Linked DNA regions of Homo sapiens: all the other regions are linked to region 3. The links come from fine-mapping of genetic effects on gene expression. A gene starts in region 3. Each other region holds a variant in brackets. All regions are shown on one strand. Distances are from middle to middle.

Evidence for each region. PIP is the estimated chance that this variant, and not a neighbour inherited with it, causes the effect.
Region 1: its variant is the best candidate, but not a certain one, in a credible set for the expression of RASGEF1C in tibial nerve (GTEx, PIP 0.89).
Region 2: its variant is the best candidate, but not a certain one, in a credible set for the expression of RASGEF1C in thyroid (GTEx, PIP 0.60).

The regions. Positions count from the first base shown.
Region 1 is chr5:180,137,077-180,146,433 of GRCh38, reverse strand. It overlaps RASGEF1C (RasGEF domain family member 1C), which reads left to right. Exons shown (of 14, transcript NM_175062.4): 2 at 8,376-8,558; 3 at 8,722-8,844. The coding sequence starts at 8,382. Among named protein-coding and RNA genes, the nearest start is that of RASGEF1C, 67 kb to the left of the region's middle. RefSeq lists an enhancer at 8,886-9,357. The variant A/G (reference allele first, on the strand shown) is at 7,002.
Region 2 is chr5:180,121,658-180,131,465 of GRCh38, reverse strand. It overlaps RASGEF1C (RasGEF domain family member 1C), which reads left to right. Exons shown (of 14, transcript NM_175062.4): 5 at 2,856-3,056; 6 at 3,783-3,857. Among named protein-coding and RNA genes, the nearest start is that of RNF130, 55 kb to the right of the region's middle. RefSeq lists silencers at 4,147-4,216, 4,287-4,336, 4,563-4,857. The variant G/A (reference allele first, on the strand shown) is at 3,864.
Region 3 is chr5:180,204,045-180,213,852 of GRCh38, reverse strand. It overlaps RASGEF1C (RasGEF domain family member 1C), which reads left to right and starts at 4,642. Exons shown (of 14, transcript NM_175062.4): 1 at 4,642-4,825. RefSeq lists a silencer at 4,507-4,726 and an enhancer at 5,851-6,643.

The DNA.
Region 1 (9,357 bases), 67 kb after region 3:
AAGCACAGTGGCTCATGCCTGTAATCCCAACACTTTGAACGGATCACTTGAGCTCAGGAGTTGGAAACCAGCCTGCGCAACATGGTGAAACCGTGTTAAAAGTACCAAAATACAAAATACAAAATGAGCCGGGTGTGGTGGCATGCACCTGTAGTCCCAGCTATTCATGAGGCTGAGACAGGAGAATCACTTGAACCTGGGAGGCAGAGGTTGCAGTGAGTCAAGATTGTGCCACTGCACTCCAGCCTGGGTGACAGAGCCAGACTCCATCTCAAAAAAACATTGGGGGAAAGCTTCATGATATTGGATTGGGCAGTGACTTTTTGGATATGATACCAAAGACACAGGCAACAAAAGACAAAAATAGACGAATTGGACTTCATCAAAATGGAAAACATTTGTGCCTCAAAGGACACTATCAACAAAGTAAAAAGATAACCTACCGAATAGGAGAAGATATTTACAAATCACATAGCTAATAAGGGATTGATATCCAGACTATCTAACAAACTCCTAAAACTCAAAAACAAACAAATCCCAAACAACTCAATTCAAAAATGGGTAAAAGAGGACTCTTGGGGCTAGCTGCCTCATGCCCCTGCAGAGGTCCCAGCAGCAGCCATGCTCGAAGCGTGAGCTCCAGTTCTGTGGGGCTTCTCCTCTGATCTGGGTCTTGAAACGCCACGGCTTCTCTTTTGTTCCTTAAATCTCAGGGGTGGGGTAATTACATCCTGTCACGGAACCAATTCTATGAATTAAATTTTCTTTGCTTGAAAAAAGTGGGGAAAAGTCTTGAACAGGCATTTTTCTAAAGAATATATACAAATGGCAAATGAAAAGATGCTCAAGATCACTGATATTTAGGGAAATGCAAATCCAAACCACAATGAGATACCACTTCCCACCCATTAGGATGGCCATTATCAAAAAAGCAGAAAACAACAAGCATTGTCAAGGATGTGGAGAAATTGGAACCCTTTACATTGCTGTTGGTAATTTTAAATGGTGCAGCGGGCCGGGCACGGTGGCTCACGCCTGTAATCCCAGCACTTTGGGAGGCTGAGGCGGGCAGATCACCTAAGGTCAGGAGTTTAAGACCAGCCTGGCCAACATGGTGAAACCCCATCTCTACTAAAACAAAAATTAGCCGGACACGGTGGTGGCACATGCCTGTAATCCCAGCTTCTTGAGAGGCTGAGGCAGGAGAATCGCTTGAACCCGGGAGGCAGAGGTTGCAGTGAGCTGAGATTGCACCACGGCACTCCAGCCTGGGTGACAGAGTGAGACCGTCTCAAAATAAAAATTAAAATAAAAATAAATAAAATGGTGCAGCTGCTGTGGAAAACAGTATGGTAAAGGGGGAAACAACCCCCACTGCCCACTGACAGATGAATAGATGAACAAAATATGGTATGTGCATGCAGTGGAACAGTATTCAGCCTTAAAAAGGAAGGAAATTCTGACGCATGTTACAACAGTGGTGCACCTTGACAAAGATGAATGAAATACGCCAGTCACTGAAGGACAAATGTTTTATGATTCCACTTATATAAGGTACCCAGAATGGTAAAAATACATAGAATGTAGAACTGTGGTTACCAGGGGCTGGGGAAGGAGAGGAGGAGAAATTGGGGAGTTAGTGTTTACTGGGTACAGGGTTTCAATTGATGATGAAAAACTTCTGTGGACGGACGGTGGTGATGCTTGTGCAACAGTGTGAATGTACTTAATGCCACTGAACTTTACACGGTAAATTTATGTTAAGTATATTTTTTTAATTTTTATTTTTTTGGTAGAGGCAGGGTCTTGCTCTGTCACCCAGGCTGGAGTGCAGTGGTGCAGTCACAGCTCACTGCAGCCTTGAATTCCTGGGCTCAAGCAATCCTCCCATCTCAGCCTCCCAAGTAGCTCGGACTACAGGTGTGTGACATTACGTCAACCTAATTTTTAAAAACTTTTTCTAGAGATGAGGGTCTCACTGTGTTGCCCAGGCTGGTCTCAAACTCTTGAGAATGTGTAAATGTGTAAAATTCTGCACATATTCAAGCAAGGGCAGAAAGGGCTCTGATTTGGGGCCGTGGACCCACCACAGCCTTTGAGGCTAAAGCAGTGGGACCATTTCCAGCAGCTGTTGGGACGTGGTTTCAGCTGCAGGGCTGGATGGGCAGGTAGAGGGTCGCCCCAGCTGCAGCCAGCACAGAAGCCATGGGGAACCATGGCGGTGCAGTTGGCAAGTCTTTTTGGCACACACAGAGCCTTGGTTAACAGCAGTTGCTGCCTGTGTTGTGGTCTGGCCCTAGCAGGTGGCGAGCTCCCCGTGGCGAGTGCTGGCCTTGGGGGTCCTTTCTCCACAGCAGGCACTGTGCGAGGTACTTCGTGCACCAGTCTCCATAACCTGAAGAGGGGGACTGCTCCCTCTTCTCAGAGCTCACAGGTGTCTTCCTGAGACACGCGCGTGGTCCTCACAGGGGCCTTCGGGAGCCTTCTTTACCTCTGTCCCTTCTGCCACACCTGGCCCAGGGAGAACATCCCTCCAGCCCCCAGGACGCGCTCTGACCAGCCACCTGCTTTTCTTCTGCAAGTTCGATGGATTTCCATTTTGCAGATGTTTAATGCCAGCCACCCATGCTGAGGGATGTGGGGACCCCAGCAGGAACAGGGTCTGTAAACTGACCACCTTGGCACTACAGATGTCATTTCTAACTGTGCTTTAACTCACTGTGTGGCCCCATCAGTGGCTTTTTAAAAAAATAGAATTAATTGCCACCCTTACAATCACAATATGAAACGTAAGTCAGGAGTCCTGGATGTCCTGGATGACTTTTACACCAGGAAGGTCTGAGCACGCCAGCTCCCAGAGCACAGCAGAGCTTGTGGGTTTTCACTGGTACAGCCGGCCCACCTTCTGCCAGCCCCACGCTGAGGAGGAACAGCAGGGCCCTTGGGCACGTTTTCAACTGGCTGGGGGCAGGTGACCATTACCTCTTTCCAGCACCCACTGGAATAGCAGGAGAATGCACATCCATCTTCAGGGCTGGCCTTCCTTATAAACGCACCACATGGTGCCCCTGTCCCTGCACACATTTCCCGTCTCCCATAGAGGGGTTGGGCTGGGGCCATGCTGTCCCAGAAACTTTGCCAGCGCCAGCGGCCTGGAGCAGGGTGGGCCCTGAGCCTGTCAGTGAGGCCTCCAGAAGGAAGGATGCCCAGCTGGGTGCTGGCAGGCATCAGAGTGCCCCCCTGCAGGGTGGCACGTGGGATCCTGTCCCCTGTCTGCCTGTCTCTCTGCAGACCTGACCCCACACAATCCTCGCCTGCTGTCTCTTGAACTGCTGCAGGAGCCCCAGGACCTCCAGGTGCAGGGCCTGGAGACACACACAAGGAGAGATGCCTGAGGGGCTGGGGGCCAGGCAGTGGGACAGGAGCCATGGAGAGGGAAACCGAGGCAGAAGCTCATGCCTCAGCCACTTGGGGCTGTGTGCCAGAGCCAGGCATTTCCTCTCAGTGTCCTGTCAGTGCCCTTGCCACAGCGGGGGCACGTGCCCCCAGCCTCACCATTCCAGGCCTGGAATCAGTTCAGGTGTTCCCAGAGCCATCCTCTGATGAGTGGACTTCAGCTTGGACGAATGACTCTAAAACGATGGGGTGCGAGGAGGGCACAGCAGCGACTCATTTCTCAGGGCCTCACTGCAGTCTTCATCCACGTGAATGTCATTCCCACCATCCGCACCTTTCTCTCCTGCTGTTTTCCCCTCCTTGTGCCACACTGTTTTCTGTGTTATGACCGTGTGTTCAGAACCATCACTGCAGCGGCCACAGCCACTCCGCCAGTGCGTCTGTGCACCTCCCCGTCCATGCTCCCTTTGTTTGCCATCTGTGCTGCTCGAGAGTGTTCGCTGCTGGGATTTAATGCTGAAGCAAGGGCCTTTCTTTCCACAGCTTGTCCCCTTTATTTTCTCAGGATACATTTCCAAGGCTTTGATTAGGATGAAAGGACGCTATAGAACATAACGCTCTTGGTACATTGAGCCAAATCTTGGTACAATTAAAGGGACCATGACAACGCATACCACCCCTCCCCGCAGTGGTGTGTAAGGGGCTGCCCTTGCATGCCTGCCAGCACTGGGCATTTAATTAAGTCTCATTCATTTCATGGGTAGGAAGCGGAACCCCACGGGAGCAGCCACACCGTGCATATATCTAGTTCACACACACCGAGCCCCACGTCCCAACGAGGCAGACAGAGGGAGAAATGGAAAGGTCTCTCTACAGGGTACGAGCAGAACGTTCCCCATCCATGCTGAGCCCCTCATGCTGACAGCCCATCTATGCAGCCCCCAAGACTCCCAGCCCCTTTGTCACGTGCATCATTCAGGCCACGTGCACAAAACACAGATGGGAGACTTAACAGTGATTTCAAGACTTCTGAGAGATATTGTAACAATAAACAATTGTCCCATCATCACTGCCTTTTTTAAAAAGTGTGATATGAGGTCAGGAGATCGAGACCATCCTGGCTAACATGGTGAAACCCCGTCTCTACCAAAAATACAAAAATTAGCTGAGTGTGGTGGTGGGCACCTGTAATCCCAGCTACTTGGGAGGCTGAGGCACGAGAATCCCTTGAACCTGGGAGGTGGAGACTGCAGTGAGCAAAGATCGTGCCACTACACTCCAGCCTGGTGAGACTCTGTTTAAAAAAAAAAAAAAAAAAGTGTGATAAAATACACATAACATAAAATGTATCATTTTAACCCTTTTTAAGTGACAGTTCAGTGACATTAAGTACCTTCATATCGTGGTGGAACTGTCACCTCCATCCCTCTCCAGAAATCTTTTCTTCTTCACAAGTGACACTCTGTTCTCCTGTCCCACCCCCAGCCCCTGGCACTCGCCGTCCCACCGTCTGCCTCTGTGAACGTGATGACTGTAGGTGCCTCCACAAGTGGGGTCACTCAGTGTTTGTGCTTCTGTGTCAGGCTCATTTCACTTAGCATGACGTCCTCAAGGTCATCCGTGTTGCCGCAGGCTCAGAACCTCCTTCCTCTCTGAGGCTGACTCCTGCCCCACTGTGTGGAGAGGCGTTTTCTCCATCCATTCGTCACTGATGGACGCTTGGGCTGCTGCCTCATTTCTTTTTAAAAATTATTTGTGGACATCCAAACAATGGAATATTGTGAGGCAATTTTTATAAAAATGAATGAGGCAGCCCTGCCCTGCCATGGAAAGGTCCTCAAAACGCATTGTTAGTGAAGAAAGCCCAGTGCGGGGGAGTGTGGACAGTATGCTACCTTTTTGTGTAATACAGACAGAAAAGGGGTTATGTGTTTACATGTCCTTGTCTTTGCGTAAAGAAGCTACAGAAAGACTAGAAACTAATAAAAGCGTCACTTACAGGTGGAGCGAGGGACCCTCGTTACATGGCTGTTTTTGCACACAAGGAACGTGATGCTCTGATCACTCTGCACACTCCCTGACCCCAACTCAGTCACTCCCCACTACACTTCCAGGAGCCACTGCCTGGCTCCTGACACCTAAGCATATACTCCCATGATCACACCACGTTGCCCCCCGCTCCGCCGAGCCTCTGCACATGCTGGTCAGTCTGTCTGGCATGTCTCTCTGCCGATTGCATCCTGCCGTCAGCCCTCAGTGCAGCCACCCTCACCCAGCCCATTCCAGGCAGGCTGGAGCTCCTGCTGGAGGGAGGAGGAGCTGGCTGTCCCTGGCGGATGGAGGAGCAGCAGTGTCCTCTGTGTCCCCAGCTGTCCTCATGCAGAGGCCAGAGGTGGGCACCTGGCCTGTCTGCACCAGCACGCCTGCAGGGAGGGGTGGGAGTGGTGGGGGAGCCCGCTGGTAGCAGCAGCTCTGACCTCACCTTCTCTTAGGGGCCAGGACATCCACCGCAGTGAGCACAGAGAGTGGTCACCCCCTTTCCCTCACAGCACGCCTCCCGTGGGGCAGTCTCTGCACAGCTCTGCCTCCCTTACCAGCTCCCTGAGGTCGGGCTTTGTCCCCATTGCCTGGAATGGAGCCAGGAGTCACCCCATGCATACACGCATGAATGGATGACCCTTGGCAACCACAGGAAAAAACTGAAGGCTGCGGCACAAGGATAAGCCCATTCATTGAGACCCAGACCTGGACCCAGCTGGTGATACGATGGGTGATTGGAGGTCGGAGGACCACTGGCAGCCCAGCCCCTCTCTGGGCATCCCTGTGGGTCACAATAGTTCAGCAACCACCACCACCCCTGGCTCCAGCGAGAGCTAGTCGCTCCAGAGCAGAGCTGGATCTGAACACTGCTCCCACCTCCCATGTGCCCAGCACCTGGGTCCAGGCCAGGCCCCAGGTCCCCTGGGAGCCTCCTGGCTGTCTCTTTAAAGTGGCAGCCTCCTGGCCTCCTTCAGAAAGGCCCCTGCATGGCACCTCCCACCATCCTGCAGAGGCTTCCAGAGCCACCTCCACCCTTGCCACTGGCTTGTCAAGAAAATGGGGCTGGGATCTGGGGCAGGCCCAGCGTTGCAGGGTGAACAGGTGCCAGGTGTCCAGCAGGAGACAACGGACCTCCCAGGCTCACAGGTTTTCTATCTTGTGGAATCAGGCTGAGCTGCCGGGCCCTGGGCAGGAGGCAGAGCAGCGTGCACCCTGCAGCCGGCCCATCCCGCAGCTGTCCCCCTCCCACTGAGCATGTGCAGCTTCCTGCATGCCCACCTGCTCAGCCGCCTCCCCCTGGGACAGACAGGAGGTGATTTTGTGAAATTTTACGGTTTCATTGGCTGAAAATTGAACACTTACAGCATTGTCAGGGAGGCGAAAATAAGCTGTCTGTCACCATGGCCAGGACTGTCTGGGCTGCTGTCCACACCAATGCCTGAGCCCTTCCCATGCTGTAACCCAGTCCCAGCACCTCCCACACCCACATGGCCACGGGACAGCCCTCTGAGGGGCTCCCTCTGATCCCCAGTGTCAGCTCTGACCCACCACGTCCCTCTGTCTCT[A/G]CTCCCAGGGCAGGGTCACTCAGAGTGCTGCAAAGGAGAAATAGGCCAGGGTCAGGGTTTGCCATCGGGGCAGCAAGGACGGCATGAGCAGGGGAGCCTCAGAGTCCATAGAAGACCCTGCAGTGAGCTGGCAGGACTCCACGATCAAGAATGTAGGGGCTGTCTAAACAGTCACAGGTTTAGCCAGGATGCGTCACTGTGAGGGCTCCTGGGCTTTCAAGGAAGACTGGCCTAGAGGGGTAAGTGGAAGAGCTTCTGAGAGTAAGCATGGGCTCCCTGCAGGTGGGTATGGACACCTGCTGCTGCCAGGCCCGTCACTCAGAGCAGGGTCACAGAGGATGTGCTCTGGCCTCTGCCTGGAGGTTTGGGTAGAGAAGACACTGTAACGGCTGCAGCTGGCCTTTCCCTGTGCCAGGTACTGACAGCAGCACCCAGGCACCCAACAAGGCTGACAAGCAGAATCTGCTGATGCCCACCAGAGGTCAGGTGCAGCCTTGGTGGGACGCAGGGAAGGCTTCACCGAGGACGAGGCATTTCAGCCATACCTGGAGGGATAGGGGAGTGAAGATGGTGGGAGAGCCTTCCTGCAGGAGGGAACGGCATGTGCAGTGGTTCAGAGTTGGAGAAGGCATTTGGAGGAGAGAACGTGGCTGGTGCCAAGAGCAATGGGGTGTGATAGGCGGTGAGGATGGACAGGTCAGCTAGTCCAAATCACAAAGAGCCCAGAATGCCAGGTTAAGGAGGACAGCAGTTTTGACTGTACCTGAGAGAACCCCAACTTAAAGAGGCACATGTGATGGAGAAGTCCATGGAGCAGCTTCTGTGCTCAGCACAGCGACACTGTGCTCAGGAATGTGCCCACTTTCCTGCCACAATGGCCCCAGTAGCGTCGGGCATACATTCCACCAGCTCAAGGACTCCAGGGGGAAAGAAAGCCTCCAAGTGCCACATAAGTTCTGGGATTGCAGCTGAGCCCCCCTAATTTGGATGGGGCCAATCCCTGAACCAATCTTTGTGGCCAGAAGCAGGGGGATTAGGCTGATTATCCAGGCTTGTGAAAAACAACCTTCGTGGAGGGGTGCCGGGGGGAAGAATCTAGAAGAGGCCTGCCCCTGAGTGGGGCAAGAGGAGTAGACAAGAGATGGGTCCTGCAGGAGAGTTGAGAGGCCATGAGAAGACGGAGAATGAAGGCTGTGCTGTGAGGAAGGGGCCCTGACAATACTCCCAGGAAGTGACCACTGGACTCAAGCTGGCACAAAGTGGCTGTGGGGGGAGCCTGCCCAGCCAGGAGCCCCGGGACCAGCAGCTCCCACTCAGGTGCACCCAACTCAGGTGTGCCCCCACTCAGGTCCTCACTGCTCCTTGCCATTGCAGGCAGACATGCCACAGACGCTGAGTGCCTCCGACATGGTCACCCCAGGCAGCCTCAGCCCACCCCCCACCGAGCCCACAGATGGCGAACAGGCTGGGCAGCCCCTCCTGGATGGAGCGCCATCCTCAGCCTCCCTGGAAACACTGATCCAGCACCTGGTGCCCACAGCCGACTACTACCCCGAGGTGGGTGATCCACCCAGCGGGCAGGAGAGTGGGCTCTCCTCCACCACGCACGGGGGGCATCAGGGTTGGGCGTGACCTTGGGCCAGGGTACAGGGCCAGCTGGGAAGCATGCCCCTCCTGGTGCCCTCCTGAGCCTGTGCCCTCTTTCTCGTGTGTCCCCCAGAAAGCCTACATCTTCACCTTCCTGCTGAGCTCTCGCCTCTTCATCGAGCCCCGGGAGCTCCTGGCCCGGGTCTGCCACCTGTGCATCGAGCAGCAGCAGCTGGACAAGCCGGTGCTGGACAAGGTGAGGCGGAGGGCAGGCCAGGGGGTCTCAGAGTGTACCAGCACTGCCCTGCCATGCCCTCAACGCATCAGCCTCTCGGGGAGGCAATGATTGTCCCCGTTTTCCTGACAAGGTGGCTACCGGGTGTTTCCACCTTGTCTGAGGCCCAGAGCCAGAAGGAGCAGAACAGGACCTTTAACCTCCATGTAGTTTTCCAGTGCCCGACGGGAACCCTTGAGCCCATTAAGCCCAGACCTGAGTATCCGGAGCCCGGTCAGTAGGACCCATCTGTGGCCGGGAGGGCCTGCTGCCTCTGGTGGGCTTCCTTCCCCCAGCACATCCGCTCCACCTTCCCAGTCCTGGCCGGGTCCTGCGGGCTGCCTCTATTGCACACGCGTCGGTAGGGCTCTACCGCTAGTGGGAGAGACCCAACTTCAACCCGCCTGAACCAAAAGGACTTAGCTGGCCCGTGTACCTGCCCTATCTCAGGGACCGCTGGCTCGGGCCTCACACCACAGCACTGCACCGTGGCCT
Region 2 (9,808 bases), 82 kb after region 3:
GGGAAACAGCACTTGAGCTTCGGTCCAGTGGATGAGGAGAACGTGCCAGAAGGGAGAAAGCTGTCCAGATCCTGCCGGGGACATGGGGAGTGGGGACATGGGGAGGGTGGGAAGGAGTCAAAGGGGCGGAGGAGTGACCTGTGTCCAGAGCACAGAAGGGGAGCAAGGGCGCATAGAGGCCACCAAGCCTGGCCAGAGCTGACCTCGGAGCCTCAGAGTCACGCCAGGGCTCCTATCTTTGCACAAGCCATGGAGGCATTTTCAGGAACAGGGAGGCAGCGATCAGATTTGCATTTTGAACAGACCTCTGTGGCTGCAGGGTGGAGAGAAACCGGCGTGGATGCATTGGGGGCATTAAGAAGGCCAGTGCAGCAGAGAGATGACAGTGGCCTGGGCTCCAGAGACAGTGGTGGGATGCGCAGAAATAGAAGAAAATGAACTAGAGAGGGGTGGTGATGGCCTAGAGGGGCATGAGGGAGAGGGCGGGGTCGAGGATGGCACCAAGCCTGTGTGTCTGGTGGCCGACGCGCTATCCACCAACACTGGGAATACCAGCTTTGGACAAGGAGAGTCGACCTCCATTTGCTGTGCTGGGCAAACAGAGGACCATGGGCCATATGACGGACCGCCGCCCATATGACTCTGGAGATCAGAGGGAGACTGCAGGTGTGAAGCAGAACAGCCAGGAGCTAAGTAAGAGTGAGAAGAGAGGCCTAGACAGAGCAGGAAGAACCCCGAACCCCAGCATCTCACGACAGTGAACACAGGCAAGCCTGCAGACAGCCCAAGGCAGGAGCAACCAGGAGGCTGAGGCGGAGGTGGCCAAGGAAGACGCAGCCTGAGAAACGGCCACTGGCTTTGGTGACAGGAGGGCCCAACGAATTGACTGATGGGAGTGGCAGCCAGGTGAAGTGATTCAGGAGTGAGTGGGGGTGAGGAGACGAAACAGCAGGTGTAGCCACTCGTGGGACTCTGGCTTTGCCTGGGAGAGAGACAGGAGGTCCGTGGAAGGGCCAGGGCCCACAGGGGACTGACCGTGCCCCTCAAGGCTGGCAGTGGCTGCGCCCCACTCCCCATCTTCCCAGCACTCAGATGAAGCCCTGGGAGGCAGTGTGCCGACCACAGTTTTGGACACAGCCTTCCTGAGAGGGGTCGTTCCTTCCATGGGCCCCCTGCCCCCTACCCCGCAGAGGAAGCAGGCCACTTCAATTACCCAGCGTGGAGCCTAGTTTCCCTGGCCTCTGCTCCCAACAGTACTCATCCAGGTCACCCTATGCGACTTCTTTGATAGGACCACCGTCGAGACAATGGGGTCATTTCCTCCCACACTAGAATAACAGCTCCACAGGGCTGCAAGGTCTGTGCTGCCGCCGCTGTGCTATGAGAGCCCAGCCCTGCTCTGGGCACACAGTGGGTGCGCAGTAAGTGCTCACCCCCACCAGCCAGCTCAGACGCACGGGCTCTTGCTTTGGGCCACATCATGGGCTGGGTACAGGGATGAAAGGCCGTGGCCACCCCTCAGGGGCACCTCCTCTCCCACCGTCAAGGAAAACCTAATTATTTCCCCTCGGAAACCCCTATTTCCAAGGAAGTGCCATCAGACTGGCTGGGTTTGTTAAGGTAGACATCCTCATGTCCTCAAGGGGTTTGGTCTAACTCAGAGTGAGATGCAACCCCCTACAGCCAGGAGCCGGCCTGGGCACTGGCAGAGGCAGTGGTGGGAGCTGGAGCCTGGTCCCCAGCGATGGCGCACCTTGACTGGACAGGCTGCTGCTCCCAGAGGCCTCGGGAAATAACGAAGGGTGGCAGTCGGCATCATCAGGTCACTTCAGAGATTGCAGGGAGTTTTCCTTCATGCGATTTTGAGACACACAGAGCCTGCAGTGAGCGGTGGGCAGGTGTGGCATCTGCATGCTGGCTGTGAGGGTCTGGGGGCTCCGATTGCTCTGGGGGGGCCTCAGCCAGGGCCCTGGGGTGCTGCTACTGTCTGAGGACGCTGGAGCCCTGTGCTCTGGTGGCGGGGTTGGGAGTCGTCTGGCACTCCTATGGCAGTGGGCAGCTGTGGCAGAGCCTCAGATGGGAGGAATGGGACAGGACGTGGCTTAACCCTAAGCCTAACTCTCAGAGCACGGGCCAGGTGCAGAAGGCGCCCACTGGTTAGCCGGGCAGTTGTCCGACTCTTCTATCTGTTGCCCATGGAAGGAACGACCCCTCTAAGGAAGGCTGTGTCCAAAACTGTGGTCGGCACACTGCCTCCCAGGGCTTCATCTGAGTGCTGGGAAGATGGGGAGTGGGGCGCAGCCACTGCCAGCCCTGGGGGGCACAGTCAGTCCCCCGTGGGCCCTGGCCCTTCCACTGACCTCCTGTCTCTCTCCCAGACAACAGCACAGCTGGTCGGGGAAGGCCGAGCTGGGCCTGGGAGATAACAGAGGCCCCATTAAAGCCAAGCCAAATGCCAGTCGTCTGCCCAGGGCAGGGCCCATGCCATGTCTCCCGCCTCTCTCCCTTTCTCTGGCTTCCTGGCCGTGCCCACCCCACTCTACCCCACTGCCCCAGACAGCTGCCCCCGGCCCCCGTCACCCTCCCTGATGTGTGCTCCTCTTGGCTCCCACCCACAGATGGGAAGCCCTGCAGCCTTCACCCCAGATCCCTTGCCAGGTGGCCCCACCCTGGCCGGGATTGGGTCCTGTTTCAGGGTAGGGGCAGGTCCTGGCCCCTGCGCTGGTACCTGGCCTTTTCTCCAGAGACCCTGAGGAAAAGACCCTCCCTTTGGAGCCCAGGTGGCTGCCTGGTTCCAGTGTTAGAGATGCAGAGATGAGTGTTCAGTCCTGAGCGCCCTTCTTTCCACCCACCAGGCATACCGGAAGAGGATGCATCAGCTCCTACAGGCTCTGCACCAGAAGCTGGCGGCTCTGCGCCAGGGGCCAGAAGGTCTGGTGGGTGCCGACAAGCCCATCTCCTACAGGACCAAGCCACCAGCCTCCATCCACAGGGAGCTCCTTGGTGTCTGCAGCGACCCCTACACACTGGCCCAGCAGCTGACCCACGTGGAACTGGTAAGCCGGCCCAAACCACCTTCCTCACCCGGGATTCAGCAGGACACACACAGATACACTGTGCCCTCCCTGGCTTCCCAGAGCAGCCCCACAAGCTTGTGAAGGAGGCCCTGGCCTAGCCTCGAGCATGCACTGGGCCCCTTGTGGATGCAGAGGCCAAGGGCCCACCCCAGGGAGAGGGAGGCTGGGGCGGGTTCTTCCCTTTGAGACTGAGGGTTGATGGCGACCTCCCTGCTCTCCAGGCACTCTTCAGCGCGCTCCCGTGCGCTCGCTCATGTCTCCATCACCTGGCCAGGCAGGCCCTGTACACAGAGGAAACTAAGGCCCAGAAAGGTGAAGCGACTTGCCAAAGTCACACAGCAGAAGGGACAGAGCCAGGGTTTGATTCTGACCCAGATGCCATGCTCCTAGCCACCAGCCCCTCCACCCCGCAGAGGAAGCAGGCCACTTCAGTTACCCAGCGTGGAGCCTGGCTTCCCTGGGCGTCACGCCTCATAGCATTGCTCCCTGCCCCCATGAACCGGGAAAGGAGGGGCTGCCTCCTCCAGGGAAGGCGCTGAGCTCTGTGACAACCTAAAACAGGGTCTCCAAGCCCCAGTGGGGAGGGCAGTTGCAGAGTGACTGTTGTGAGGAGGACTAGGGGCTGGGGCACCACGGCAGGCCCCCCAGTGGACACCCCCTCCCCATACCTTCCCTCTTTTACCCACTCTTCACCCTTCCCTGCAGGAGCGGCTGCGGCACATCGGGCCTGAGGAGTTTGTCCAGGCCTTTGTGAACAAGGACCCTCTGGCCAGCACAAAGGTAGGA[G/A]GCTCTTACGGGCTGTCCCAAAAGTGAGCCTCACCCAGTGACTGGCCGCTCTCCGGGGAGCCCGCGAGCCTTCTCTGGGCGAGCGCTGGAGTGGCCCAGAGTGGGACAGGTGGGCTCGGGGGGCCCTGCCCACTCCGCCACGCCCCTCCAGCTCGGGGGCGCACCACGACAACCGAGTCCCGAGTCCCCGGAAAGCCTGGACGTGCGGGACGTGGGGGTCACCCACCCAGCGAGGGAGGAGGAGTGGGCCAGGAACCAGGCCGTGGGCCGCGCTGCTCGGGTGGGCCAGGACCCTGGGCAGGGAGGAGGGTGGAGGGCCCCCTGGCGCGCTCCGGGACCCCGTGCGCCTTCCCGGTGCGTTTCGGTGGGCGCCGGTGCCCTCCAGCGGCCACGCGGGGAAGCGCGGGTTGCTGCCCGCTGCCCGGGATGGGTAAGGGAACTCCTGGGTCCCGGTGCTCAGGACACAGCCCACGCACCCGGATTTCGATCCCGCCCTTCTGGGAGCCCAACCAGCAGGGTGCCGGTGCCTCCCACGGGCTAAATCCAAGCCAGAATTGCAAACATTGTGCCTTCTGCCCTCACACCTAATAAAAGTACAAACTATGAGATTGCATTTTTCACTTCTCAGATAAGCAAAAATCACCTAGTAGGTTAGACACATTGTGGAAGACACACTCCACGTGGCTGCTGGGGTGAAGCTGGCGCAGCCACTTTGGAGGGGAGACTGGCACTAGCATCGACGCTCTAAATGGACTTTCTTGACCCCAATTTTCCATACCTACGAATTTATCCCACAGATACACACCCATGTACACGAACATGCACGGACGAAGATATTTGGGATAGACAATGTTTATTATGGCCAAACACTGGGGGCAGATTGCCTTGTCACCCATGGGGACTGGATTACAAATTATGAAACGTCTATAACTAGAATGGTGTGCAGCTGTGAAAGGGAATAAGGTGGACAGAACAACCTCCAAGACCTATCCCTCCAGGCACTGAGAGAAAACGGTAGAGGGAAGAGCAGGGGCGAGAGTGTGTGACCATTTGGGTAACAAAAAAAGAGGGTAACACAAAACCATGTATGTTGCCTGTGTCCGTCAGCACTCTCTAGGAATGCTGACTGCTCTGGGAATTCGGAACAACTGTGGTGCTGGGAGGCAGGAACGGGAGGGAGATTTTTTTTCTTTTTTTGAGACGGATCTCACTCTGTCGCCCAGGCTGGAGTGCAGGGGCGCGGTCTCCGCTCACTGCAAGCTCCGCCTCCCGGGTTCACACCGTTCTCCTGCCTCAGCCTCCCCAATAGCTGGGACTACAGGCGCCCACCACAACACCCGGCTAATTTTTTGTATTTTTAGTAGAGACAGGGTTTCACCGTGTAAGCCATGATGGTCTCGATCTCCTGACCTTGTGATCTGCCCGCCTCGGCCTCCCAAAGTGCTGGGATTACAGGCGTGAGCTACCGCGCCCGGCCGAGATTCTTGTAAGATTTTTTGTTTGGTTTGGGGCCATTTCCAAATATTACTTTTTTATTGTGAAATACATCAAGACGACACATGACATTTGTTTTATCCCCCTACTGTAGATGAACATTTGTGTGTCCAGCTTTTTGCTGTTATAAATATTCCCACAGTGGACATTCTTACACCCGCTGGTATACACGAGTGCACACTTTCTGTAGGGTGTCCGTTCTCAAAAGGCTCAGGATCCCTTTATACTCTTAAAAATTATTAAGGACCCCAATTAACTTTTGGTTATATGGATTATATTTATCAATATTTATATTAGCAATTAAGATTAGCTTTTTTTTTTTGAGATGGAGTCTCACTCACTTTTGTCACCCAGGCTGGAGTGCAGTGGTGCGATCTCGGCTCATTGCAACCTCCACCTCCCGGGTTCAAGCGATTCTCCTGCCTCAGCCTCCCGAGTAGCTGGGATTACAGGCATGCGCCACCACGCCTGGCTAATTTTGTATTTTTAGTAGAGACAAGGGTTCTCCATGTTGGTCAGGCTGGTCTCGAACTCCCGACCTCAGGTGATCCACCCGCCTTGGACTCCCAAAGTGCTGGGATTACAGGCATGAACCACCACGCCCGGCCTGACTAACTTATTGTGCTAACTTGCACCTCTGGTACAATGTCAAATAGAAGTATTGATAGCTGGCATCCTTATTTTATCCTGATTTTCAAAGGAATGCTTTTAACGTGTTGTCCCAATAGAGTATGATGTTTGCTACAGGATTTCTTGAGATGTCTATTATCAGCTTAAGGAAGTATCCTGTTCCTTCCTAGTTTTCTCAGAATTCTCATCATGAATGGTTGTTAAATTTCATTTATTTTTTCTGGATCTGTTACTCACATATTCTCTTCTCCTTTAAACTGTTAGCTGATTGTTTATATTAGTTTTTAAAATAAATGTTTCTTTTGTTTGTTTTGGGTTTTTTGTTGTTGTTGTTGTTGGTATTTTTGAGACAGAGTCTTGCTCTTTTTCCCAGGCTGGAGTACAGTGATGTGAACACAGCTCACTGCAGCCTCAACCTCCCGGGCTCAAGTGATCCTCCTGCCTCAGCCCCCCAAGTAGCTGGGACTACAGGCACATGCCTCCATACCTGGCTAATTTTGGTATTTTTTGTGGAGACAGGGTTTCTCCATGTTTGCCCAGACTGGTCTAGAACTCCTGAGCTCAAGAGATCTGCTTGCATTGGCTTCCCAAAGTGCTGGGATTACAGGTGTGAGCCACCTCACCTGGCCTAGTTTTTTATTGCTGTTGTTGTTTGAGACGGAGTTTTGCACTTGTTGCCCAGGCTGGAGTGCAATAGCACGATCTTCGCTCACTACAACGTCCGCCTCCTGGATTCAAGAGATTCTCCTGCCTCAGCCTTCCAAATAGCTAGGATTACAGGTGCCCACCACCAAGCTCAGCTATTTTTGTATTTTTAGTAGAGATAGGATTTCACCATGTTGGTCAGGCTGTTCCCGAACTCCCGACCTCAAGTGATCCACCCTCCTCGGCCTCCCAAAGTGCTGGGATTACAGGCGTGAGCCACTGCGCCAGGCTGTTTTTTTAATCAATGTTGAACCAACTTTGCATTTCTGAGATAAACGAAACTGGGATAAATGAAATCATTATCTTTTTCACACTTCCCTGGATTTGGTTTGCTAATGTTTTAGGATTTCTGCAACTATAATCGTCAGTGAGACTGAACTGTTATTTCCCCTTCTGATACTGTTCTTGTGTAGTCTTTGTTTCTCTTACCCTGATCTCTATTCTTCCTGAAAGACTGGAATTACTTGTTCTTGGAGCATTTTGTAGAATTAGCCAGTGGAACCATCTAGGCTTGGTATTTTCTTTTTCTTTTTTTTTTTTTTGAGACAGAGTCTCGCTCTGTCGCCCAGGCTGGAGTGCAGTGGCGCTATCTCGGCTCACTGCGAGCTCTGCCTCCTGGGTTCATGCCATTCTCCTGCCTCAGCCTCCCGAGTATTTTCTTTGAGGGATGACTTTCGTGTACTGATTCAAGGTTATTCTTGTTTGTTTGTTTGTTTCGTTGTTTATTCTTGTTATTAATTTAATGGTTTTAGGACTATTTAGGTTTTATGTTTCTTCTTTAGTCTGTTTTGTAATTTATATTTTCCTAGGAATTTGGCCATTTCCCCTAAGTTTCCAAATTTATAGACATACAATTATTTGTAATATTCTCTAGGTATCTTTTTAATTTCTTCACATCTACATTGATCCATCTCTAGTATTTTGATTATTTACACCTCTCTTTGTTTCTTTATCAATCTTATCCGAGGTTCATCAATTTTATTAATGTTTTCAAATAAAGATCTTTTGACTTTGTTGATTCTGTAGATTGCAGTTTTTTTTACTATTTCATTTCTTTCTTCTCTACTCTTTATTATTTCCTTCCATCTACTTTCTTTGGATTTATACTGTTATTCTTTTTCTAGTTTCTTATGTTGGATGTTCAGCTTGTTTTTATCCTTCTTTTCTAATAAAAGCATGAAAGATGGTTGATTTCTTTTTACATAAATTTTTATTTACAGCCTCCAAGTTTTATTTTTTAACATTTTCATTATCATTCTAATTCCATTATGATTTCATCTTTGAAACATAGATTATTTCAAAAAATTTTTTAAGTTTCTGAACATTTGAAAAGAATGCGTATTCTCAAGTAGTTAAGTTCAAGTTTCCGTGTTTGTTTATTGCTTCAAATTGTGTTGCTGAGATTCATATTCATCCTGGGTTGCGTTTTGTTTTTCTTTTTCAATCTCCCTAAGCTACTAGTTACCGTCATGTGTGTTAAAATCTTCCATGTGACTGTAGGACTCAACTTCTCCTGATAAAGAACTTCAGCTTTCTGATTGTTTTTGCCTCCATATATTGAACCTATGTTACTAGCTGCAATCAAGTTAAGACTTGTGACATATCCCTGATGAGCTGACCCTTTTATCATTATGCAATTTCTCCTACAGCTTTTTGCCTCAGGGTCTTTTTTGTTGCCTTAAAGTCTATTTTGTTCAATGTTAATATAGTTACGTAATATTTATCAGATATATTTTTCTCTTTTTTTTACTTATATCCTTGTGTTTGGAGTGTATCTCTTGAAAGTGGCAAGCAGCTGCATTTGTTAATTACAGTGTTGTAATCACTAGTCCATAAGAATTTGTTCTTGCTATCTTCTGTTGTACCACATAGTTATCTTCCTTATCTGTTTCTTTTTCCTCCTTCCTTTGCTTCCTTTGGATGAATAGGTCCCCCATTCCATCTTCCCCTCTATTTATTGAAAGTTACCCTGGCAGTTTTTTGGGGATTTTTTTTTGTTTTTTGTTTTTGTTTTAGTTTTTTTTTTTTTTTTTAGATGAAGTTTCGCTCTTGTTTCCCAGGCTGGAGTGCGGTGGCACAATCTCGGCTCACTGCAACCTCTGCCTCCCGGGTTCAAGCGATTCTCCTGCCTCAGCCTCCTGAGTAGCTGGGATTACAGGCACCCACCACCACATCCAGCTAATTTTTGTATATTTAGTAGAGACAGAGTTTCATCATGTTGACCAGGCTGTTCCTGAACTCCTGACCTCAGGTGATCCACCCACCTTGGCCTCCCAAAGTGTTGCGATTACAGGCGTGAGCCACTGCGCTTGGCCTACCCTGGCAGTTTTAACAAACACATTTAGGTTAAGTTTCATCTTTTAAATGGTGGTATATTATACAGTGGAAAGTTCTAAATCCATTTAAAAATTTTTTTTCCAAAGGATATGTTATGGCACAGGGAAAGGTTCGCATAGCAAGGCATGGGAATATATATGGTTATGATAGATGCATGCATACACACAGCTGGTGCCCATTACTCCCAGCAGCTGCAGCACCGAGTGAGGGAGCACAGAACCATCGCTCCCGGGGGGAAATGCAAGGTTAGGCTCCTGTGAGACTCTCATCACAAGGCTTTTGCCAGCGGATCAATATATCACCTTGTTTTATGTGTGCTTATGTTTAAAGACATTATTTAATATAAATTATTGATTACTATTGATCTCATGGCTAACAGTGCTGTTACTCACAGCTGAATGCTGATGTCACACACATTTTCTCTGTGAGGCACAGAGCAGCCTTTGTGCGCATGGGAATACTAGACGGCACTTCAGCACCATGCTTGGGGGCCTTTCTCAGCAATGAAATTATCAGCAAAAAGCATGAAAATGCAAAGGACATGATACTCAGTAGGCCAAGTCTGAGCGTGTGATGCGGGACAAAGCATTGCTTAGCCTCCTCTGGAGATGCTTGCGGACGCTCATGACTTCGATATTTTTGCCACCGCACACGTGTGTACAGACGACCACGAAAGTGACACAAGTTTTTGGGGTTACGAATACATTTTAGAGAGCAGGCAAATTTGCAAATACAGGATCCAGGAATAATGAGGGTGTGTGTGTGTGTGTGTGTGTGTG
Region 3 (9,808 bases):
CACATGCACAGCACCACACACATGCATAGAGCACAAGAATGCACATGGCACCACACACATAGGCAGAGCACACATGCACACAACACATACATACACCACGCACATGCACACAACATACATACATGCACGCAGCACCAACATGCACACAGCACACACACATGTGCATAGCAGACAACACACACATGCATATACCACACACTCATGCACACAGCATCACATATATACACACACGTGCACAAAACAGCGCTACATACACAAGCATACAACACACACACATTACACACATGTGCTGCATACACATGCATAGAACACACCACACATTCACACAAGTGCACATACACATACTGCATATACCATGCATGCACACATGTGCAAATCCATATACACACACACACCCTCTCTCTTGCTCCTCCCAGCCCAGGCTCAGTGGGTTGGCAGCCCTGGACTGTAAAGGATCATTAAATGTGGCCCCCTCCCGTGGCTGACTATAGGATGACTTCTCCTGGAGCTCTGCCCTTGCAGTAACTTTGGAGGGTTTTCACCAGACCAAGAATGGACGAGTTACGGGTCGGCTAATAAAATGCTTTGGCCAGAGCCCAAAGTTCTGTCCTCAGTGTTTCCTGATTTTATTGGTGAACTTGCTCAGCAGCCTTGCCCGGTGCCCCTTCCCTGAGTCACGTGCTGTGGCTGTGCCAAGCATCCCGGGCAGACGTACTGCAGGGCCTCACAGGCTCCTGCTCTGCGTAAGCGCCTGCAGCTGCTGGAGCCCGTGCTGTCCTTCCTTCCTCCCTGAGGACCCGCACCAGGCAGGCACCCGCAGGCCCCGCTGCCTCCAGACCTCCTCCACATGCCCCTGGCCCCACAGTCCCAGCAGGTGCTGTCTGCTGTGAAGGGGCTCCTCGCCCTCCTGGGAAAGGTACCCCATTCATCCTGCCAGGACCCCTGCCATCGCTGTCACTTCTCACACATTCTCCTATCTCCCATCATCCAGTCCTGTGGCTTCTCCCCCAGAAACAGCCCTCAGGTCTGCCCCATTCCCTGCCCCCTGCCCAGGTCTGTACTCATCAGCTCTCCCCTGCCTGCCAACTCCTCGTGGGCCTGCTGCCTGTCCCTCGTGGCCACACCCAGTGAACAAGGACTCCAGCCCCACTAACCCAGTGCTGCGTTGGTGGGGCACACTCAGGTCTCCCAGAGTCACACGTGTGCAGGATGTGCCATCCAGGCCAGGGGCAGCTACGCAGGGGCTGAAGGTGCTGGGAAAGGCCTCATGGGTGTCAGGACCCCTACATCTGGGGACAGCACCACCCCCTCCTGCTGGGGGTGCTGCTGGCAGAGCTGCAGCCACACCTGCCCCTGTGTCGACACCCAGAGGACAGGATCCAGCTCCTTGCCCACCTGGACACCCTGCCTGGCCCTGTTCCCTTCCACCTTGGCTCCAGCCTCTTTTTTGCAAAAACAATGCAAAGTCCATGCCAGCCACAGGGCCTCGCCCTTGCTATTCTCTCTGCCCACGGTGCTTTTCCCAGACCCTGTATGGCCAGTGCCTTGTCTGATGTGCCTGGAGAGGCCCTTCCTGGGCCCTCCCTTCTAAAGCAGCCCCACCGCACTCAACCACCTCCCCAGTATGGCTTCCTTCATGGCGCTCGGCGCTCTCCGAAATGATTGTTTTTACTCTTTTGTTTGTATGGTTAGTTTTCAGCCTCCCTTCTCTAAACCATGAGTTCCAGGGGGCAGGAACCCCATGTCGGGCTCTCTGCTATATTCCCAGCACCCAGCATGGTGCCCGGCACACATAGGCCCTAGGTAAGTGTCCACCCAATAGATGTCTCAGGGCAGTGGTGGGGTGAGGGGAGACTGAGTTGACGGCCCTAGGGATGGCTCACCCTCTGTCCCAATGCCCTCACTCAGGGATTAGCCCCGGGGCACGTTCTGGAGTGAGAAGTTGGGTGGGCAGGGTAGGGGCTGGGCAGGAGAGGTTCCTTGCTAGAGGGCACTCCTGGGTGGGCTATGAGGGGGCGGGAGCAGATACCTCCCAGGGCCCAGTGGTGGCACCTGCAGCCAGGGTCCCACAAAGCTGGAGGCTCAGGGCAGAACTCCACGCTGGCCGCGAGGCTCAAAAACCTTCCTGGTGTTGCATGAGCCGCGACTGCAGCTCATGCGTCTTCCTCAGCACAGGCCCAACTCTCGGCAGCGATGGGTCTGGCAGGGAGAGGACGCAGGAGACCTCAGGGGACACGGTCTTCTCCTTTGTCCCAGAGCAAAGCTCTGCCACCCTCACCCCTGTGGGACACGGAGCTGTGGCCATGAGCTAGTCCACACCCATGTTCCAGTTGCCCTGGCCTCATCCAAGCATCCCCTACCCTGCTCCCAGCAGGGCAATCATGCTTCAGTGGCCCCAGCCACTTGCTGGAGAAAGTTCTTTATCAGGGGACAGCAGCCTTTGCTCACAGAGCAAGGGTGAGCTGGGGAAAGACTGGCCTCACCACCCTGACCTGCACTTGGTTAGGAGGGCCGCTCAGTGCTGCCCAGACCCCAGAACAACACAGCTGAGTGGGTCAGCTCTTCTGAGGTGCCTCTTGCGGCCTCTCCTCCTAGACTCCTGGCTTCCTCCAGGCGACACCCTGGGACTGGACCTGAGGCTTAGGGGCATAGGGTGATAATCGGAGAAGATGCAGGGAGGGCCCAGTGCCTGCACCCTGAGGCGCATCTGTCTATCTGCTGGGAGCACACTGCTCACCCCTGACCAAGTGCCTGCCTCTGTTCCTCCTCCCTTTCCCCACACCTGACCCTTGGTCTCAGATGTCACCCTCCCTAGGGCCAGCCTCTGGCCCTGGCCCTGGCCCCAGCCCTGCTGTCTCCCTGCCTAGCTACCTGGCCCACATTCATTCTAATACATCTGTATGCCCTAGGCAGCTGCCTGCTCTCTCCAGGACTCAGTTTCCCTAACTGTTCAAGAAATGGGCTGGACTGTTGTTCTTAACCTGTCCATTCTTCCAGGAACAGCCTTCACGGAAGCTTGGAACAGCACCTTACTCCATCCTCAAAGCTGACACAGGACTAACTCTGCCTCAGCTCTAGTGAGACGACACCCAGGCCTGCTATTCCTGCTCCCTAGGTCTTTGGAAATGGCCTGAGCTCAGCTCCTCGGAGCCTGTGTGTGGCAGCCGCAGGCTGTCCTTGCAACTATCAGGCAGCTGTGCCCTCTCTGAGGTGTCAACCCAGGGCCATTCTGCCACAGAAAGACTGGGAGATAGGGGAGGCCAGTTTCTATGCACATAGGTTAAGTACCTGGATCTAGCCATTCCTCTAAGCAGTAAACCTTGGCTTTTTATGATCCACAAACCAGCTTTTTGCTCAAGCTGGTTGGGTTGAGTTTTGGGCCACATCTCATCAGGCAGGTCCTGACTAAAGCAGAGTGAGGTGAAGGCAGCTGGAACTTCCGTGTCGGGTGGGGACTTGGAGAACTTTTCTGGCTAGCTAGAGGATTGTAAATGCACCAATCAGCACTCTGTAAAAACGCACCAATCAGCACTCCGTGAAACGGACCAATCAGCAGGACATGGGTGGGGACAAATAAGGGAATAAAAGCTGCCCGCCCACCCCTCGCCAGCCAGCAACAGCGGCGACCGGCTGTGGTCTTTTTCCCTGCTGTGGAAGCTTTGTTCTCTTGCTCTTCACAAGACATTTTGCTGCTACGCACTCTTTGGGTCTGCACCACCTTTTTCTTTTCTTTTCTTTTTTTTTTTTTTTGAGATGGAGTCTTGCTCTGTCGCCCAGGCTACAGTGCAGTGGTGCAATCTCTGCTCACTGCAAGCTCCACCTCCCCGGGTTCACGCCCTTCTCCTGCCTCAGCCTCCCGAATAGCTGGGACCACAAGCGCCCACCACCAAACCTGGCTAATTTTTTTGTATTTTTAGTACAGACAGGGTTTCACCGTCGCACCACCTTTAAGAGCTGTAACACTCACTGCCAAGGTCCCTGGCTCATTCTTGAAGTCAGCCAGACCAGGAACCCAGCGGAAGGGACAAACTGCGGACACAGGAGGACAGGTGTCCTGACCTCTATGCTGGGACCAACCAGGGAACTTTTCACTGAAGACCCAGTTCAAGGAGGCCACTGGATCCTGTTAGAGCCCCTCTCCCTTTCTAAAAGTGAAATCATGCATCGCCATCCTCCCAGAACCCCGGTGTCTTCAAAGTGGTGTCCACCCTCCCTGGGGGCCACGGGAGAGCGCCGAGAAGGTTGGGGAGGGGGGGTGTCCACCCAGGGATGTCCCATTGGGGGACACAGACAACCTAGGTGGCCAGTCCAGAGAACCGGGCCGGGCCCAGTCTTGAGGAGAGAGGGTGAACTGGGTTTTGGGGCGCCAGAGGCCCACCAGGTGAGGTGTAGGCTGGGGCAGCTGGGGCGCAGAGTCCGCCAGGGTCCGCGCGCGGGAGGGCAGCGTCTGACGGCCCGAGCGGGTGGTCCTGGCGCGGGGGGCCAGCCGCCGCGGAGGCCTGAACGCAGGGCGGGACGCTTGGCTCCGCGGCCGGGGCACGGAGGGCCCTGGTGTGCAGCGCCGCCCGCGGGCTCCCGCAGCTCCACCCCCGCGCCCCGCCCGCTCCGCGCTGCCTGAGTGCCACGAGGGGGCGCAGCGCCGCGTTGCTCCGGGGCCGCCGCCAGGCGCTCGTGCGGGCTGCGCTGGGAGCCGGGCGGTCGGGCGGCGGCGGCGGCGGCGGCGGCGGCGGCGGCGGCGGCGGGCGGCGCCCCGGTCCGCGGCGCCGAGGCTCGCACCGGGAGCTGCCCATGGGCCGGGCCCGGAGTTCCGGCGCGCCGGGAGCCGGTGAGTGGTGCGCGGCCGAGGGACACCTGGCGGTGCGGGCAAGGGCGCGGGCTCGCGGGGGCTGGGGAGGGCTGCCGGCGGCGCGGCGGGGTCGGCGGGAGGCGGGAGGCTGCGCGCGGCGCGGGAGCGTGCGCCGGGGTCAGCAGGGGCGGGGTCCGCGCGGCCGCCGGGACTGGAGGCGCGGGGGTAGCGGGTAGGGTACCCTGAGGGCACACCCCCGGCCACCTGGCGGGAGACCCAGCTCTGCCGCGCGCCGCCAGCCCCTGCTGGGCGCGAGGAGCAAGCTTCTTTCAGCCGCTAGAGTGGCAGGAAGAGCCAGCCTAGACCAAAGCCTCCACCCGCACCGGACCTCAGTTTCCCCGTCTATGAAATGGGGACGGGAAAGCAGACCTGCCGGTGCACGTGCAGAAGGGAAAGGGCCTTGCGCCTGGGGGAAGAGGGTGCTGTCACCCTTGAGGATGGGATCGGATTTGAGGAAAGGACCAGCGCCACTATCAGAGGGCCTGCGAGAACAGTGGGGTCTGCTGGGAGTCCTGGGTGTGTCCCTCACGCAGTGACAGCGGACGGCATCAAGGGACCACCTGGTCCACTCATTGTATTTAGATTGGGAAAGCGATGCTTGGGGGGACTTGGGGAAGGGTGCTGGCGACGCCGCCCCATGCTCAGCGTGGGCGTGGGAAACTGTGGGAAAGACAGAGCTGGGAAGTTGGGGTGCTGGTGGAGCTCTTCCGGGCCCGTATCTCCTGCCTCCTGGGGCTGTGGGAGAGACAGAAGTTCTGAGCCCCGGGAGCCTGAGAAGAGTCCTGGGAAGCTCTGCCTGCCAGGCAGGTGGAGTAACTGAGGTTTAGAGAGGGGCGGGACCATGGAGTGGCAACGCTGGGGTCCCACCTCTGGTAAGACTGGCTCCAACAGCCATAGTGCAGCCACTGTGCAGGCGACCGGTGGAGGGGGGCTAGGGTTGTCCACTCACTGGCCACATTCATTGAGCGCCTACTGTGTGCCGCCTGCTGCCTGCCCCCGTAAGTGCTCACTAGCTGGTGTGGGAGGGGACACCAAACAAGAAATCAAAGGCAAAAGCAAGGACATGGCCAAGATCTTATGCGTGCTGGGAAGAACATGCAGTAGGGTGACTGGGGCAGAGGGAGACCAGGGCGCGGCGGAGCCTTCGTCTGGTCAGGGAGGCTGTCCTGAGCGGGGAGCCCAGCCTGTGATGGACGGGTAGCCCGGGGGAACAGCGCGGGTGAGATCCCTGAGGGCAGGAGGGGGCGGAGCTGGAGCTGAGACGCTACAGGGTCTGGACGTCCTGGGCAGCCCCCAGGCGGTTTGCAGGTTGGGCGTCGAAAGGCTGCCCGTGGCGGCGGGTGGGCGCACTGCCGGGGCAGGAGAGGGAGGGCAGGCGAGAGAGGGACGGGCTGCGGAGCCCAGGGCGGGACTGGCGAGGGGGAGCCCGCAGGCCACCAGGTAGAGGTGGGGCCCTGCCCGGGACCTGGCCCTTTTCAGGCCGGGGTCTGCACCCTCCTGCCATGTCCCCGCCAGTCTCTGAGGTGGTTCCAGCTCTCACTTGTACCTGGACCCAGATCCAGAGTCAGCCATTTGTCCAAGGGGCCTTGGTTCCTTGCGTGGGACCCGGGCTTAGTGTGGGGCGTGCACTCGCCGCCTCTAGGCCTTGTCAGTGGACCAAGCCAAGGCCCCTTTTTTACTAAAAATTAATATTTCCTTTCCCTTTCTCCTGCAGTGAGAACCTTATTCCCCCAAACATGAATATATTTCATCATTTACTTAGCTCCACAATGCACCCCGAAAGAGTTTCAGAATGACTGCATCCACACCGAAGCCAACCAAAACCTGCTAGGTCAGCATCGGGATTTCCACGGGTGTGCAGGCAGAGTGCTGTGTGGTGACGTTATCAGTCGGACACACTGTTAGCTTCGTGTGTTTCTACTTGCATTCAATTTGGAGCTTTTTTTCCTTTAGACTTTAGGATGTAATTTTATTTTTTGAATACGTAAAACACATGGTTTAAAGGTCAGAACTATTAAAAAGCTATCCTTAAAGGTCTCAGTCCCACCCCTGCATCTTCTTCCTTGTTCCCACACCATTGGGAGCCATTTAAAATATTTTCTGGTTTATCCTTCCTGTGTCTCTTTCTGCAAAACAAGTCATTTAAGCATTATCACAAAAGTTAGCCGTACAGCTCCTGGTTTTTCTTCAGTTAGAAGTATGTCCTGAAAGTAACTTCTTACCAGTTCATGGAGACCTGGCTCATTCTTTTTTACACTCACATAGTATTTCGTTCTGTGGCTGTACTATTATTGTTTATTCAAATTATGTCCTCTGGATGAACAATTTTGTTTTTTTCCAAGTCTTTTTAAATTTAAAATAATGGAGTAATGGATAACTTTGCACCTATATTGTTAATGTTTGCAAAGGTGTATATTTAGAACACACTTCTAGAAGTAGGAGTGAATGTGGATTTATTTTGTTAGCTAGTCCCAAATTCCTTGTCAAGAGGTAGCACCGTTTTGCATTCCCACCACCGATGTATCACAGTGTCTTCTGTTTCCCCACAGCCTCGCTGGTTTGAGAGCTGAGAAACAGTATTTCAGTGTATTTTAAATTTATATTTCTATTATTATAAATGAAATTGGACATCTTTTCACATAGATTTGGAATCATACTTAGACTTTTCTAACTATGAAAAGCCCAATTATAAAGCAATCATCTGTGTTTTCTAATATTTGTTTAGTTGTGTACTTAGTCTCTGCATCCAATTTAATCTTTTTCTAAGTGTCTGGCACTCTGTCCCAAAGCCATTTATTTAAAAGGTCATCTTTCCTCCAGTGATCTGAAATGCACCTTTCTCATACACTAAAAATCCAAGCCCTGGGCCTGTTTCTGGGCTTTCTAGTGTGTCTCACAGGTCTGTCTGTTCCATCTGTTCACATACTGGTGAAAGAGAGAGAGAGAGAAAAAATATATTTAAAGGCAAGGAGGGCCTGGCACAGTGGCTCACGCCTGTAATCCCAGCACTTGGGAAGGCTGAGGCAGGCAGATCACTTGAGGTCAGGAGTTTGAAACCAGCCTGGCCAACATGGTGAAACCTTGTCTCTACCAAAATATATAAAAAATTACCCGGGAATGGTGGCACATGCCTGTAATCCCAGCTACTTGGGAGGCTGAGGCATGAGAATCGCCTGAACCTGGGAGGCAGATTTTGCAGTGAGCTGAGCTGAGATTGTACCCCTGCACTCCAGCCTGGGCAACAGAGTGAGACTCTGTCTCAAAATAATAATAATAATAATAATAATAATATTATAATAATGGCAAAGAGGACTTTATTCAAGACCATTGCAATAGAGGAGAGAGATTGGGCTCAACTCTCCTTGTTGTGTTTTAACATGTGGTGGGCAAGTTCCTTCCATCGCTTTTTACTGCAAGGATTTCCTGGCTGTTGCAGCACGTTGCTGCTGTTCGGGCGGGGAAGGAGAGCGTATTAAGTTTATATTAGGCTTGTATATTAACTTTAGGATAATTGGCATCTTTATGAAGTTGAGTTATCTTATCCAAAACTGAGAGATGTCTTTCTGTTTGTCAAGACTACTTCTAGGAGTGTTTTGAAATTTTCCTCATATATGTTTTTCCTATTTCTTATGAAGTTTATTCATGAGTATTTTTATCTTGTGTGTTGCTACTATAAATGGTTTTTTCTTCAATTATATCTTTGAATTGGCTACTGTTTCGTGTATGTTATTTTATATCTTTCTGTCTTACCTGAATTTTTATTGTTAGTTTTATTGTTAGTCTTTTTTTTTGTTTTTATTTATTTATTTATTTATTTTGAGACGGAGTCTCGCTCTGTCACCCAGGCTGGAATGCAGTAGCGTGATCTCTGCTCACCACAACCTCCACCTTCCAGGTTCAAGTGATTCTCGTGCCTTAGCTTCCCAGGTAGCTAAGATTACAGGTGCCTGCCACCACGTCAGGCTAATTTTTGTATTTTTAGTAGAGACGGGGTTTTGCCATCTTGGCCAGGCTGATCTCGAACTCCTGACTTCAGATGATCTGCCATCTCAGCCTCCCAAAGTGCTGGGATTACAGGCATGAGCCACCATTACCGGCCTGTTGTTAGTCATATCTTTGATTCTGTTAGTCATTCTGTCATCTACAAATTCAAATAGCTTTACTGCTTCTCTACTGATTTTTATGCTTTCTTTTATCTAATTAAATTGGCTGAATACCTCCAATTCAGTATTAAATATTGGATGTGGTGGGCCTCCTTACCTTGTTCCTGACCTTAGTAAAAAGGCCTCTAATACTTCCCCTATTAAGAAAGATGCTGACTTTAGGATGGGAAGAGATAGATAGATGAGATAGATAGATAGATAGATAGATAGATAGATAGATAGATAGAGGAATATCCATTGACTCCTATTTTATTGGCAGTTTTAAAAATCAGGATTGGTGTTGACCTTTGTTAGAGCCATGTATGTAGATAATGATCTGATATTTCTCCTGATTACTAGTAGCATAATGAGTCATGTGATGGATTTCCCAATATCAGGTCTGGGACTAGGCTGAGGTAAACAGACACAAAACGTATGAATATTAACACTAGGCCATCTTTGCATTTCTGAAATAAGTCCCACTTGGACATGATGTAGAAAATAGTTTGGCAGTTTCTTTAAAATTTAAACATAAAAATACCATATGACCCAACAGTCCCACTCCCAGGAATCTAAGAGAAATGAAAACAATGAAATGTCCACACAAAGACTTGTACACAAATGCTCATAACAGCATTGCTTATAATGGCCAGAAAAGTAGAGACAACGCAGTTGTTCATCAACTGGTGAATAAATAAACAAGATATATATCCGTACGATGGAATATAGTTTAGCAATTACAGTTGGCCCTTGAACAATGAGAAGGTTAGGGATGCTGACCCCCACACAGTCAAAAAGCTATGTATAACTTTTGTCTTCC